Linked DNA regions of Homo sapiens: region 2 is linked to region 1. Evidence: fine-mapped expression QTL. Tissue or cell type: subcutaneous fat. Region 1 holds a variant in brackets; the other region holds the start of a gene. All regions are shown on one strand. Distances are from middle to middle.

Evidence for each region. PIP is the estimated chance that this variant, and not a neighbour inherited with it, causes the effect.
Region 2: CRTAC1 starts here. The variant in region 1 is fine-mapped to the expression of CRTAC1 in subcutaneous fat (GTEx, PIP 0.98).

What each region holds. Positions count from the first base shown.
Region 1 is chr10:97,880,234-97,888,338 of GRCh38, forward strand. CRTAC1 (cartilage acidic protein 1) reads right to left here. Exons shown (of 15, transcript NM_018058.7): 12 at 3,973-4,118; 13 at 2,553-2,595; 14 at 16-159. Among named protein-coding and RNA genes, the nearest start is that of MIR3085, 8.4 kb to the left of the region's middle. RefSeq lists enhancers at 1,771-2,970, 7,967-8,105 and a silencer at 2,259-2,553. The variant C/T (reference allele first, on the strand shown) is at 4,331.
Region 2 is chr10:98,027,361-98,035,465 of GRCh38, forward strand. It overlaps CRTAC1 (cartilage acidic protein 1), which reads right to left and starts at 3,261. Exons shown (of 15, transcript NM_018058.7): 1 at 3,089-3,261. The coding sequence starts at 3,112.

The sequences.
Region 1 (8,105 bases):
TGGGGCCCCACTCACCCACGCAGGCTGTGCCATCCTCGTTGGGCTCGTAGCCCCGACTGCACTTCTTGTTGGTCCGGCACCTGTAGCTTCCATAGGTGTTGACACATACGGGCTTGTCTCGAGGGCACACGAATGGGAACTGGATGCATTCATTGGTGTCTGCAAGGCGAGGGGAACCACTCACCATGAAGGTGTGGGGCAGCAAGTACCAGCCCAGGCTCTGCCTGCCTATACACTGTCTGGCTTTGGGAATGTGCCTTCCTCGCAGAGCCTCAGTTTCCCTGCTTCAGTTCCCTTGGCTGGCTCCTCCTGTACTTGGTCTCTACATGCTGGGGGCAGGGGGTGGGCACTCAGGCTTGGTCCTGGGTCCTCTCTTCTGTCTACTACAATCGTTCTAGGTGATCTCTTCATGCATGGATGATTCCGAAAGTTCTATCTCCAGTCACAACCTCTCCCCGTGGCTCCAGACTCACGAATACAATAACCCATGACCTACTTGACAGCTCCACTTGGATGTCTAAGATGCACCTCATGCTTAATATGTCCAAAATAGAACTCCAGATTCTGCCCTGCCCTGCCCATATTCTGGCCCTCTGTTCTGTCTTCTCTAGCTCAATCAACACCCCCATCATCAATCAGCTGCTCAAGGGGAAATCAGAGCGACCCCTGATTTCTCCGTCTTTCTTGCCCCCTGTGCAATTTCACAGCAGAGCCTGTCCACTCTGCCCCGCAGTCCACCAGTCCACCTCTCTCTGTCACCTCTTTCTCATTCCTCTGCCACCACCCAATTTCCTGCCATCGTGACCTCTTGCCTGGATTTCTGCAGCTGCCTCCTCACAGAATACCTGGCTTCCCCTCTTCCCTCCAATCCACTCTGCAATTCAGCAGCTGGAGGGAGCCTTTAAAAATGTGAATCACATCATGTCACTCCCCAGTTTAGCTTCTAAGGCTCCTAAGAGCAAAATTCAGACTCCCTACAGGGGCCTCATGGACTCTCCATCATCTCCAGGCCATACTGGCATCCCTCCTGCTCCTTCAACACACAAAGCCTTTGTCCTGTCTCCCGCTTTTCACTCCTGCCCTTCCCTCAACTCTTTCTGGGCCTAGATCCTTCTCATCCTTCAGGTCTCAGCTCAGAGTCTTCCCCCCGAGGCCCTCCCTGACCACTCTCTCTGGAACAGTCTCCAGGGAGCACCTTGCTCAGAGGGTTCTGAAATCATCTTGTCCAGGTGTGTGGTCATGCGTTCAGGGTCTGTCTCCCTCCACTAGAATGGATGCCCCTCTTGTGGAGGCGCGGGGGTGGCACTTGGCCTACATCCCCAGCTCCCAGCATGACACTTGCTGTGTACGAGGCACATAACTGCCTGTTGGGCGATGAAAAGGAAGAGGAGGCTGATCTCAAAGGGTCCTTCCTGCAGGCAGAGAAGACTCTGGAATTTCTATGCACCTGCACTATGTGTTTGGAGTGGGGCTGGGTGGGCATGTGGAGAGTGTAGGGGAGTCATTTCCTCCTCCAGCCACCCTTGGCACCACTGCTCCTCCACCTCCCCACCTGTGCTCCTTTGTTCAGACAGTGCCCCCCACCAGAACCATGTCTCCCCTCTCTGTGACTGCCGAACTGCTCCTCATTCCTCAGGGCCCAGCTTGGACCTCACTTTCTCTAGGGCACCTTCTAGGACCCTCCCTAGGCTGGTTTAGGGCCCCTGCTTTGTCATCTCCAAGCCCCTGCCCTCCCCCATCTGGGCCCTGATCACACTGTGTGGTCGACAGCTGTTTACTTTTGTGGCTCTCCATTGGTTTTCAGCTCCTGAGAGTGGTATCTGTCTTGTTTACTCCTGTATCTCAGTAGCAAAGGGTTAATGAGCAGCTGCAGAGTAGACTTGGGAAGAATGCTGGATGAGGGTTCAAGGAAGGAGGGATCCTTGGCCTGACCCCTCCTTGCTGGTCACTGGGATGGAAAGTGTTGGGGGTGAAGGTCTCCTGGACACTGAACTTCTAGGCTGCCCCTTCCCATTCCAGGCTCTTGGGGACTTTCAGAAGGTTCTTGGACCGTCAAGGAGCTGCCATCCTGGTAGTGCTGCAGCTACCTGCCTGCCCCAGTACTGCACCAGGCTGCAGTCTCCGTTCCACACTGTGACCACACTCCATACACTATTTTGCCCCAATGCCCTTGGCAATGCACACCCTTGCCTGCCAGCCCCCTTGCTTGCTGCTCCACATGGACTTGCTGGCCATGGCATGTGGCTATTCCCCCTGTGCCAGGTTGGTGGTGTGTCTCCTTCCCATCTGCAGTTTCTCGGTACTCATGGCAGGAAAACACTGCCAGTTTCCAGAACCGCAGTGATTCAGCCTGTGGGTCACTAATATCACTCCCACCCTGGTGAGTCATGTGGTGGTTGTCTTGGCATCTGGAGTCCCAGGACAAACAACACCCTCCCCTGTCCTCCTTTCTGCCCCTTGCTTGCACCCTGGACCTTGGCATGAGTCAGGCGGGCATTCCCCAGGGAGATTCCGGCCTCTACCCCATGCCCTGGTGACTGAAGGCAACTCACCCATGCAATGGCCATTTTCCTGCTGGGAGAATCCTTGGCCACACTGTAAGGTGGGCAGAAGCAGAGACATGAGTGAGTTGAGAAGGTCCCATCCCAGGTTCCCTCCTAGTCACAGCCACAGAGTAGTTGTCACCCTAACCACAGTGTGAGGCATGCTCTGAGCTCTGGGCCTGGGGGGAGCCCCCTCCCTTGTAAGACCCTTCCTTTGCGCTGAGAACAGAAGGCTGGCGGGAAGGCCATGAATGGATACGGTTCAGACTCTTGCTCATTTCCCTGTGCAAAGGATCCACACGAGCTGGGACGTCTAACAGAACCTGTCCCTTCTGTAGCATCACCCTGTGACTGAGGCTGGGTCTGTCAGGGCAAAGTGTAATGAGGGCTGGGAGATGCTTTTTGAGGTGTCTGCTCACTGCCCACATTCACTTCTCCAAGAACCTCTCCCTCACACGGGTGGGTGCCTGCAGCCATGCTTGTGTCCCACCTCTCTGGCCAGGGCTGATGGGTGGACATCCTAGCAGGAGGGAAGACTCAAGGCTTTGCAGCAAGAATTTGAACAAATTGACTCAGAGACTTAAGAGTTGGGAGCCGGCCCTGCCAGGCTGTGGAGGCTCTACCATGCCCATATGGGGGTCTCAGAGACAGCAGCCTGGGGTGGGGCAGGGGACTAAAAACGTAACACACATGACACAAAATGTCAATCAACCGTACTGATGAATGAGGTGGGTGGATGGGGATTGTTGGGGAAGAGGGGCCCCTCTCCTCCCAAAGCCAGTGCACTGACAAAGGTCCTTGAGCTCCTAGGGCTGAGGCCATCAAGCTGCCAGTTTCTACTCATCCTGAGCTTCCCTGAGTTTTATGAGTGATCCTCCTTATAAGCCCCCTTCATTTGTGTCAGTTTCAGTGGGTTCCTGTTAATCGCCACCAAGTGAACCCCATCAGAGTTGGAACGACACTGCTGAGATGGGTCCAGAGCTGCTCCTCAAAGAGCCTCCAGAAAACCTGGTGCAGGCTCTGAGCCCCACCCTAGGGCAATAGGAGGTCTTGTCAGAGACTCAGAAAGAACCAGGAGGGCAGCAACAGACCTGGGGTCATTTTAAAACTTTGCTCACAACTGGCTGTACAGCCTTGGTGGGCCTTGGTGGATTTCCTCTCTTAACCTCAGTTTTCTTCCTCTGTAAAATGGGTGCAAAAATGCTTGCCCTGCCAATACACCAGGGATTCTTTGAGAAGCAGAAGAGATGTGGGTGTGATAGTGTTGTGCAAACTACAAATGGAGGGATCAGTATGAAGCCTTCGCTTTGCCAAGATTTCCATCACTCTAGAGGCTGAGTTTGCAGATTCCTGGGAACCCAGCTTCAGCCCATGGGGTTGTGGGTGGTGCCCGCTTTTCTGGCTATGAGGCCCAGATGCCTTTGCCCACCTCCAGTGGGGCTGGGTCCTGAAGTGTGTCCTCATCCCGGGGGTAGAGGATCTCCAGCACTGAGTTCATCTCCCCGCTGGCCACGTTCCGGCTCACCATCTTGCCATCTGGCCACGTCACCTCCACACTGCTGGCTTCATCCTTCCCTGAGGGGCAGAAGGAGAGAGCATCAGCAGCAGAGGAGAGCAGGAGGCTCTCAGCGGAAGCATCAGCATCAACTAATTCATCCATTGAATAAAAGCATGAATTGAGCACTGTTCTAAGTGCTAGGGAAATGGTGAACAAGACAGATTTGAGGTCCCTCCTCTCTGGAGCAATGCTGTCCAATAGACCTGTCTGTCTGCAAGGACAGAAATGT[C/T]CTGCATCTGTGCTGTCCAGTACAGTAGCCACTGGTAACATGTGGCTGTTGAGCACTTGAAGTGGGACTCACGTGATTGAAGAGGTGAATTTTCAATTTTATTTAACTCTAATTAATTTAAATTTAATGGCCACACATGGCTGGTGGCTGCCATGTTGGATAGTGCAGCTCTTGAACTCACGTTCTAGCAGACAGGCCAAGCATCAGGAGGCTGTACTGGAGGATACAGTAAGGCCTGTGATAAGCAGGTTGTCTTTGGAGTCTGGCATTCAAATCATGGCTCTACCCCTTACCTGGTATGTTGGAAAGAGCATGGTGGGAAGTGGGTGGGAGACCTGGGGACAAATCCCAGCTGTGCAGCTAACTGGCTTTGTTATCCCAGGAATGCTTCTTGTGTTTCTATTTATTGAGCTCTGCTAAGGGCCAGGCTCTCTCTTGTCACTGGGGATGCCCCTGTTCTCATGGAGTTCCCAGTCCAGTTGGGGAGACAAGCAAACAGATGAACAAATAAATAATGCCAGATATTGACAAAAGTAGGGCAAGTAGGTAAGGAGGAGCTGGGGGTTGCCAGGGCCTTGTCTAGTCAGGTGGTCAGGGACAGCCTCTTAGGGAGGCGGCATTTGCACTGAGCTCTACATAATAACTTGGAAAAAGAGCTGGGCATGGTGGCTCATGCCTGGAATCCCAGCTACTCAGGAGGATGAGGCAGAAGTATTGGCTGAGCCCAGGACTTCAAGGCCAGCCTGGGCAACATAGTGAGACCCTGTTTCTGAAAAAAATAAAAACAAACAAAAAACAACTTAGAAAAGATGGAGTGATAAAGAGATGGCAGGTGGAGGACAGGGGAGAAAGACCATTCTACAAATCTAAGATGCTTACAGAAGATGATGGGAACCTCAGAGATATTCACAGTGAATCCATTTGCACACAACCCTAAAGCAACGTGCCACATCATTGGTGGAAAGCAGGCTGAAAAGATTTGTCAGATGTTTAGGCACTGTCAAAGCAGGCCCCAGCTCCCCGCGTAAGGAAACAGGCCCGTCACTGTGGCAAGGTCAGGCTAATGGTGATGGATTGGGGTGGGGAGGAGGCGGGGGCTGGGCCTCACCTTCCAGGAGAGGCTGCTCTCAGGTCAGCCCCTGGGAAGGAGAGCTGTGCCCAGCACAGACAGGGGGAGAACACAGCCCACTCTATCACCCATCAGGGCTGAGCAGATGTGGGGACACGGGGTCCTGCAGGGGGACCTGAAGTCAATACACTCCCCCAAACACCATTCCCAGGCTAAATAATATATCACCCACATATATGCACCATTATTTTTCCTAATATATGTAGATACTGTTAGAAAACAAATTAAACTTAAAATTGCTGTTGAATGTATATTCGCATTTGGTCATTACTATCCACCAATGAATTTTACAATGATAGCTACTATGGGGTGGACGGTAGTTGGCAAAATGTCTTGATGTATAAAAGGGGTTCCCATATTTTAGAAAAGGAGGTTTGGAGGCCACATGCAGACTTGGAGGAGAATCTCTGTGTAGACTTCCTGTAGAGACCACTGTGGGGCATGGAGGAAGGGAGCCGGGTGCTGGGGGGAGGACCCATGATGAGGGAGGTTCCAGAGGGAGTTACGCCTTGTGAGCCACATCCCCCAGCTTCTAGATCCTTCCCATGTTTGGTCTCCTTTTGCTCTCTCACCCTGGCCTCCAGGGGAGTATCACTGGAACATCCCAGCCTTGCTGCTGCCATGCTGTGAGCCTATGAGGGCCAGGACCAGAGCTACACTCTGAAGAGTCCATGGAGAGGCAGCCGCTGCCCTCATGGGCACAGCAGGCAGCAGCAACGGAGAGGCTCGGAGACAGAGGCTCATCCTCACACACTGAGTTCCCCTCCCACACAGCTCAGTTTCTCTTCCCACAGGGAAATCCTCTCTTTCCAGGCCCAACCTTACCGTTCTGGGTTTTGCTTTATCAAGCAAGAAATTATTTCTCATCACTCCCTCAATCTACAAGAATTCCTTCTGCAGAAGCGGGGTGAAAATGGGACTGGGGAGTGCCAACTACAGATTTTTTTTTCTTTTTTCTTTTTTTTTTTTTGAGATAGTATCTCAATCTGTCACCCAGGCTGGAGTGTGGTGGTGGGATCTCAGCTCACTGCAACCTCCCCCTCCCAGGTTGAAGCCATTCTCCTGCCTCAGCCTCCTGAGTAGTTGGGATTACAGGCATGTACCACCGCGCCTGGCTAATTTTTGTATTTTTAGTAGAGACAGGGTTTCGCCATGCTGGCCAGGCTGATCTCAAACTCCTGACCTCAAGTGATCCACCCACCTCAGCTTCTTAAAGTGTTGGGATTACAGACGTGACCCACCACACCCGGCCAGATTTCTTTTTTTTTTTTTCTAATTTGAAGTAGAATCTTGAGGCGCAAGAGATTTGGCATTTTCAGGGTGTACAGTTCCCAAGTTAAGTGGCACATATAAAAGGTAAATATTTGCCATTAAAAGAAGGAGACAAAGAACAGCAAATGTTTCTTACCTAAGCCTGCAGAACAGCTACATGAATGTGTTTTCCAGACTGACTGAAGGGCCACAAAGGACCCAAAAGAGTCACGGAATATTCATAGACAATCACAGATTTGCATGTGGTACTTGCGGCACTTAGGTTTTTTTTTTTTTTTTTTCTGTTTTTATTTTGAGATGGAGTTTTGCTCTTGTTGCCCAGGCTGGAGTGCAGTGGTGGGATCTCAGTTCACCACAACCTCCGCCTCCCAGGTTCAAGCAATTTTTCTGCCTAAAGCTTTCCCGAGTAGCTGGGATTACAGGCACCTGCCACCACACCTGGCTAATTTTGTATTTTTAGTAGAAATGGGGTTTCTCCATGTTGGTCAGGCTGGTCTCGAACTCCTGACCTCAGGTGATCCACCCAGCCTCGGCCTCCCAAAGTGCTGGGATTATAGGCGTGAGTCACCACCACCAGCGGGACTTAGTTTTGAGTACTGCTTCCGCAGCTTCCTCCAGACCCAGACGTGGTGCAGGGGGCCTGGGGCTATGAGATAAGCAGGCCTCAGAAAGCACAACCAGCAGGACTCCCTCCTCTGCCACTGTGTTTTGCTAACTTGGGCATCCTCTCTGGGCCTCAGCTACTTCATCTGTAAGATGGGGGTGCTGGCCAACAGCCTTACCACTCCTAGGAAGCACAGCCTTTCTACCCTGGAGCAGGAGTCCTGGCCTGCTGTTAACCATTCACCTCAGCATCCCTGGCACCATCGGCTCTTGGTCATGGGGTCTCCCTACAGTTTCCAAAGGGCTTTCAGGTGTTGGTAACAACAGTGAACACTGACAGCGTGCCCCAAGCTGTACCAAGTGCTTTATGATGCTAACGCATCGAAACTTCACATCTCCACGAGGAAGGTGCCAGTGTTATCATTTCTGCCTTAGAGATGAGAAGGTGGAGCCATGGACAGATGCAGTGAATCGCCCAGTTGCCCAGCAGAGGTCCGAGAGATCCCAGAGCCGGTATCTACTGTGCCCCTGTTACACTGCCCACCCTATCCCACGCCCAGCAGCCACCATATACCAAGCTTTGTGCAGGGATTTGGGATTCAACAGAGAATGAGACAGACCCAGGCCCCATTCTCATGATTCCCATGGGAGCGATGAATACAAGTGATTATATTATAAGCTGGGAAAGTGCCACAACAGCACTGTTACCATGTGGTGAGAGAGATGGGTCATTTCATTTGGGTATTGCAGGAGGAGTAAGAGTTTGTGAGG
Region 2 (8,105 bases), 150 kb after region 1:
ACCTTGAGCTGGGAGCAGCAAGGGTGGGGGAAATAGGCAAATACTCTTTGGAAACTCTCCAATCCATCTATAATCTGAATCTGGGAGGTCTCACCAGCAGTGGTGTGACTGCAAGCAGAGAGACCCCACGCCAACATTCCTTGGCGCTCCAGACCTGGGTTCCAAGACCACAGTGAGGGACTCGGCACTTCTGACTCCTAAATGCACAGACTGAAACCTGGACTTGCATGGCTTTTGCTTAAAACACCACTTGGAATAATGAGACGAGATTGTAGAGGCAGGGAAAGAATAATTAGGAATTTCTATGACCTGTGTATGTCCATGACAAGAACTGTATTTTCTCCTCACCTCCTCACTCTGAAAAACAGATTCAAAATAGAATCTCCCCAACTGTATGGGATGTATTAATTTACCAAAGCCTGGTCAGTCAATAACTATGAGTGCCTACTGTATAGAGAAAGTATGTCCATCTTTATAGTGAAGAGGAAGCAGGCCGCTGGAGTGGAAACAGCTCTGAATCGAGCAGTGGGAATCCTAGGGCCTAGTTCCATGTCTTCCACCAAATAGCCATGTGACCTTGGCTTTATCCAGCTTCAGTTTTCTCATCTGTAAATTAAATGTGCATGTGAGTGTTGGGATGGAATGGGGTTGGATGAGATGCTCTCCAAGGCTCCTTGCTTCTGGCTCTAATGTTCTGGAACTCCATGAACCCTTAAAGAGTTCAAAGAACACAGCGGCACCAAGCACAAAGGAATGATCCCCGAGAGAGGGTGGGGCTGTGTACCAGCTCTGTCTCCTTGGAATGTTGTGCTTGCACCTGCCCCATAGCACCCGAGGTCACAGGACCACCTGAAGCCCAGGAAGCATGTGGTAGAAGGATTCCAAGTACGATGGTGGTGGTTGAAGGCTGTAGCCTGAGCTGCCTTAAAGCATTAAGTTGCTACAGCCAGTAAAGGGCAAGAAGTGAGAAAGTCAGTGGTCCTGAGCCAGGTACCTTTGGCGCCCCCTACTGGACACCAAGGAGTCTGCTCCACCTTTAGGCTTCCACCGCCTCAGCACGGAAGCAAGGGAGCGCTTGAGCATGAGAGGCTGTCACAAGCTGTTTAGTAGGACTGCCTTCCCGGTTGGTGGTATTCTTTCTATAGAAGTCTATTGCACTCCCTAGAATTACACAGGCCATTGGTCCACAGATTTACAGGGGCACCCCTGCGCAGCCATAGGACGTCTTAACCAAACATCAAGGTACCAAGGAATAAACACCAGGGTTCAGAACACCAGGTGCAGCCCAGATGGAGAAGGGAAGAAAGAGCAACAAGCAGGTATTTCGCTGCACAAATCCCCAGTGGAGAGAAGGTCTTGGGAAATGCAGCAGAAAAATGTTGACTGCAGCAGACAACGATGGAGCTGGGGGTTGGGATATAGATTGATAGCACCCATAAAATATCTCCAGGCTGAAGCAGGTACCCTAGGAGTTTGAACATCCACCTACATTCAGGGATGGGATAAGGTGGAGGATTCAGGCTCAAATGAGCAGCCACAGAGCAGGTTCCCCAGACTCCCTACACACCGTTTCGACCTTTTCCAGAGTCCATTAGTACCCACCGGAAATGGAAATGTTCTAATTGTGGTCCTCTGTGCCATCATCAAGACCCTCAACTCCCTTCATTACCTCTTAAATTGACTTTAGGACCTACTGCCAGAAGGATGTTCTTAACCAAGTCAGAGAGAGAGAGAGAACATTTTCTCAAGAACCATGCTGGAACAGCCACCATGTTCCCACTTTTCCAGCCTCCACCTCTCCCCCATGGCTGAGGGTGAGGTACTCTGTGACTCTCAATGAGCTCTAATTCAGTCTTGGACATCTCCAGCCCCAAGTCGTCTGGGTTCCAAATCTCCGTCAATCGCTTATCTCTTCCCACATGAGTTCTCCCCTGACTCAAGAAAACACTATAGAACTGTCCCCTGTCCTGGGACCCTCTTCCCTTCTTTTCCACTTGGCTTCACGTGGAAAGTCCTGCACCCATCCCAGAAGACACCTCAAGTGCAACTCAAGAATGTGTCCTGTCAGGAGAACGGAAGCATCTCCTGGGATGTGCAGAAGCCACACTGGGTGCACCCACCAGCAGCAGCAGCGGCGGCGGCGGCGGCGGCGGCGGCGGCGGCGGCGGCAGCAGCAGCAATATTCATTAGTCATTCCTGGAGGAAGCCCCCCCAGCTCTCAACCCTAGGAGAATTTCCCCGCCACTCTGGGAGGCTTCCATCCAGGCTGGGATGACTTTGGATTCTTGAGTTGCTTTCTGCAGAAGCGGGACTAACCAGGGCTCCCAACTACTGTACTGCAAAGAAGCGCGCTGCATTGCTGGGCATGCCCCCAAGCCCGGCCTGGCTGCCCCATCAAAGCCTCCAAGTGCCCCCACGGGGTCGAGGAGGACTCAGGGTTCCCCTGGAATGCCTGAAGCCGGCTTGCCTCAGGCAGCCTGAAGGGAAGACCACACCTCGTCCAGCATAAGGCGGCTAGCAGCTACGCCGCGCGCGGGGCTGGCTCCCGGAGCTCTCTGCCACCCAGCGCTGTGCCCGGGAACTCGGCTTCCCAGGGGAGGAAGAGCCAGCCCGCGGGGCTCTTCCCCAGCCTGGAAGCGTAGGCACTCGGCCGAGGCCAGTGGCTTCCCAGGCCCGGGTCTCAGCCTGGCTGACTGGGAGACTCTCCCGATAGCCCGGCACATCCCTCCTCACCCGCTCCGCCCCCTCCAGGCCCCAGAGGCCCCCTCCCCTGACAGCTGACCTCCAGTGCGCCCCCAACACTTTCTCTGCCAGCTGCTGGCTGTCGCCCCCACACATCAGCTCCCACCTCTCCGCCACCTCCAACCCGGCCGCCGCCTCACCCCCAGCCCGCGGGGGAGGCTCCGCGCGCCAATCGAGTCCAGCGCCTCCCAGCAAGTTAGGAGCGAAGCCGCCGCCTTCGCGATCCCAGTCTTCCCGGGTTCCCGGGCGGCGTCCCCGCCACCCTTGCGGGCGGATCCGGGGGGGCGCGCAGAGCTGGAGAAACTTTCTCCGCCTTAGGGTGGGGGGCACCGGTGCAGATACTCACGCCGGGGTCAGCGCTCGGAGCCATCCTCCCGCTCTCGGCCCCGCCGCCTAGGGGCGTGGGAAGCGGGCGCTCGCTGCCGCCTCTGCCGCCGGCGCCGCCGCCTGCTTGCTCCCAGCCCCGGTCCCGGGCTGGCCTCGAGCCTCCCGCCCCGACGCCGCGCGCTCGCTTTATACAACTCCACTCGAGCGCGCCCGGTCTTATGTAAAGGCTGGCGGAGGCCCGCAGCCAATGGCGCGGCAGCTGGAGCCGGGGGCCCGGGGTGGGGGGCGCCGGCGCGGCCAATCGCGGCCCCGAGAGCCCGGAGAGCCGGGCGTGGGGAGGGAGCGCCTCCCCGCGCTGATTTAGGAGCCGGGATTGCGGTGGCAGCAGCCGGCAGCCAGGCTGGCCCGGCGCGGCGCGGCGGCCACTGGGGTGGGCGGCGGCGAAGGCGGCGGCGAGGGCGGGCGCCCCCCGCGCCCCGCCACTGCGTCGCGTAACCTTCAGGCGGCAGCGAGGCCTGGCGAGGAGGGGAGAGGGCGCCTGGCTGGGCGCTGGGGGCCCCAGGCCGGAGGGAAGCGAGGGTCCCTCGGGAGGCAGCGCAGGGAAGGAACGCGAAGGGGGAGGGGAGGGCGGCGAGCCCCAGGACCCCGCGGCCACCCCTGCGCGCAGGACCGAGGGTGGAGGCGGGAGCGGCTGCACTGCCTTCCCATTTCCCCCCAGGATAGCGATCTGGCGTCGCCGGGCCGGGCCAAAGCGGCCGAGCGAGCCGCGCTGATGGCGAGATTTCGACTACGGAGCTAGAGCCGAGCCGATCTTTATCCAGCCTGGGGACGTGTCCGAGCACCTCCCGGGGACTGCTCAGTATGGAGAGCAGGGCTCCGCGACGGCCCCCGCAGGCGGGGAGCGGGCGAGCGCAGCTCGGAGATCAGGCGCGCAGAGGCCCAGGCGGCTGCGGGCAGCGCCGCTTCTACCCCACCCCGTCCCCACCAGCAGTGCCCCCACCCCATCCCACCTAGTCCCTACCCCAGCAGTGGCCGAGTCGGGCCTGGCCCACCCGCTCCTGCCGCCTGCGTCCTACTAGCCTCCCTCACCGCTTTGATCACAGGTACTGCCCGCCTCTCCTCGCCCCCAACCCGCTGCCTTGGTGGTGGTGGGGGGATGGTTTCTGCCTCTCTGGACCAGGGGAATGGGGGTGCTAAGCGCCAGAAAAACACACTTGATCAGCAATGCTCAAAATACCCCTGTTCAGGCAGGAAACTGGCCTTGGTGGGTCACACTCTGAAGGCAAATCCTTTATTTTACGCCTAGAATAGAGCCTGGCACATAGTAGGCGCTCAGTGTTTATTGAATGAATTCTGAGCTTCCATGAGTGAGGTCTTTGGGTTTCTGAAAGCCAGGTAAAGGGGCCACAGAAGAGAAAGACTTGGGAATCCACCATCGGAGAGGGAAGGAGCTAGGACTGTTTTCCCATCCGTTGACGCTTTTGTGACCATCACCCACTAGTCTGGCTTCTGGGCCCTTGACTCTTAGAATGATTTGAATGTGTTCTTTTATAGAGGGCCACACATCCAGCCTCTGGCCCCTGTTATCCACAGATTTTGAGCAGAACTACCAGGACCTAGTCTGGGCTCTGTTTTCAGGTCTCTGTGATCTTCCTCTGAAAAGAAATAGCTAGGCACAGACAAACTTTCTGGCTTTTTGAGCCCCCATCAAGCCTGTAAGGTTGTGGGCCCCTTTGAAAATCTGGCAAAAATTACTGAATCATTTTTCTAGAAAAATATACAAACACACACATTTACACACACACACACACACACACACACACACACACACACACACACCTTGAGTATACTTTCAGGATCATTAGGAACCCTGAGTCTCTTGGGGCTCGGTCCAATGTCAACCTGTTTCTTCAGGGGTCTAGGACAGTAGTTTATAATCACCCTCCTTTTGGGGATCACAGACCCTTTAGAACCTTTCAAGAATCTCATAAATGTTATGGATCTGTTGCTTATAAAAATGCTCACTCACATACACACATGTTGACATGCAACTTTAGGAGGGTTCGTGGATCATTAAAACTTAATCTAGGGCCCTGATTAAGAACCTTCATCTATCGGCAAATAGACTCTGCCCCCAAGGCCATATCTGATCCCCAGCTCTCTGCATAAGGAGTCCAGTTGGCTCTGCACCCTGCTGGAACATGCCACCACCTTGTTCTGAGGGCATCTGAGTCATCTGGCCAAGGCTCTGGCACCTGAGAGACTGTCTCCACACTTTCTCTGCATCTTGGTCCCCGCCACCCTCTTAATGTGGAAATAAGTTGCAGGTTGTCATATTATGTCTGATCTATGAGCATTCCTTAGCCAGAAACTCCAACTCAGGGAGACAGCAAGTGACTGGTAATTAACCAGTTTCACTCAATCCCAAACATCTGAGCACACCTTTCTTGGTTTTTGTTCTCACCTCTCTCTTCTCCGGTGAAGCTGTGCACAGCAGCCCCAGCTGTAGCGCCTCACCTCACCCAGACCCGACAGATTTAGTAACCAGCACGGTAATTATCAGCATTAGCCAACCAGATGTGAATAGGTGCTCTGTGCAAAATAACTCTGTAATAATCTCACACTTTCCTGCAGCTAGCCAGGTAAGGTTACAACAGACCAAAGGTGCTAGGGAAGGACAGAAAAATGCAGGAAATGATGGAGATGTTCCAGCCAGGAAGTGCTCCAGGGAATACAATCTGGCTTCAGCACTTGAACTTGTGAGGGTTTAGCCCAGTGGGCCAGGCAGTCCTGGTTGGAAAATTTCTCATTTCTCTGATGTCCTCGATGTCCATTTGCTCAGTTCATGTCAGTGTCTGCTCAGAGCTCCAGCCCTTCCCCACCCCCAATCCCGTGAGAGACCTCTTGTCCTCCCACATTGCCCAAACACAGCTTTCTTGAGGCACATGCACACGGTTATAGACTGAATTGTGCCTCTCCGGACCAAATTCACATAGTGAAGCCCTAACCCTTAGTGTGACTGCATTTGGAGATAAGGCCTTTAAAGGGGCAATTAAGGCAAAATGAGATCATAAGGGTGGACCCTAATTCAATAGGACTAGTGTCCTCGTAAGAAGAGAGAGAGATACCAGAGATCTCCCATTTCTCTCTGTGCATCCTCAGGAGAAAGCCTGCCTGAGTAACAGGAGGAGGCCATCTGCAAGCCAGGAGCAGGGCCTCTGCAGAAACCAGACCTGCCAGCACCTTGATCTGGGACTTCCAGGCTCCAGAACTGTGAGAACATTAACTTCTGTGGTTAAGCTCCACGTCTGTGGTATTGGCTATGGCAGTCTGAGCTGACTAATACACACATTTTCAGCACACCCTTACCCCATGCATCTTGTTCAGGCTCCAGTCCTTTGACCCCAGTGAAGTTGTTTTTTCTTCAGAGTGTTCCCCCACAGACTTCTTCATTCTTACCTGGGGAACGTGCTTAAATTGTTTTCTCATCTGTTCATACCCAAACCAAGTCTTCCTTCCTGCGCCACCTTCCAAAACTGCCCTGGCCAGCAGTTTTCAGCTCTCCTGCAGGTCTACACCATCTTATCACCTGTGATGCACATTAGCTTTTTTTCACTCAGTGATACTTGGCCTCCCTATCAGAATATGAGCCCCTTGAAGTCCAGAGTTTGTACCTTGCAGTTGACTACCTCACAGAACCCAGCATGAAACTGGGCACAGAGTGAACACACATTAGATATTTGCTGAGTTATTCCAATTAAACCTATTTACTTAAAAATACTATTAAAGCTGTACAGTACTTCATTTTCTAAAAACTCAAGATGTATTGTGTGTGTTAGTCATCATCAACATCACTGGAGCAGGAGTTCTCAGGAGCTAGTTTTCTTCTAAAGTCCAGGATCAGAGAGGTTGGACTTTACGCAAGTTGCTAACAGTCATGCAACAAGTTAAGGACAGGACAAAAACTGTAGGAAACACTGAAGACAACCTCCAGACCCCATGTCCTTTCATTGACAAATGACTTTGTTAATTCTCTCTCTACATTAGAAGATTACTTGGCTATCTTCTCTCTCTCCGGGTGAGAAGTCAAGACACCAGATCTTAGAGATGCTTCTGTCCCAAGAGTTCTGTCACAGGAGAACAGAGAGGCTGGTACAGTTCCTCACACCCTTATCTGAAGCCCTTGAGGCCAGAGGCATTTTAGAATTCAGAAAGGCACCATACATAAACATTCTCAGTGAAGCTTTGAGCAGCATATTGAAATCAGACACATTAATATTTCTGCAATGAAATATATGAAGTTTACACTAAGCAGGTGTGAGGATAAAGTAACTTCACATCAGTTTAGGTCAGATTTTGCTACCAGATGAGTCTTGGCATCAAACTTGCAAAACAAAAATCCTTTTGACTTTCAGAGATTTGGGGATTTGGAATTGTAGATAAGGGATTGTGTATTTTAGGCTTGGTTGTCTCAAAAGAAATGAATCTTTTTGTAAGGGGGTGGAAAAACAGCAATAGTTGAAAATGGGAAACCACAAACTGTGAAAGAAATGAGGAGCTAAAGGGGGTATGAGGAAATAACCCCTTCTCAAACCAAGTCGTATGGAGGGGTCGTCCCTTTTTCCCAAGGAGTACACATTTATCACATGGCCGTTGGGTTTCAGATGCACTTGTGGCTTGTAAGAGGCAGATGCATAGGATGGACTTTCAAGGGGAGGTAGGTTAGGGGTAAAGTTGGACAGGAACTCTTTTAGAGAAGCCACAAACCCTGGGGGATGGTTCAGTCAGGGCCAGAGCCAGAGCCATCACAGATGCAGAAAGGAGTCTTCCAGATGGCCAGAGAGTTTGTTCAGAAGACCTTGAGCTGTGAGCGCATGCTGCAGGGAAACTCTGCAGGCAGAGCAGCCCCAGGAAAGGGATGCTGGAAGAAGGAGGACATGATGGAATCCTGGGGAAGTCTGGTTAGAAACTTTCGAGGCTGTGGGGCAGGGGGAAGCCTGGAGGTAACGATGCAAGCAGGTGTCTGCTTATCATGT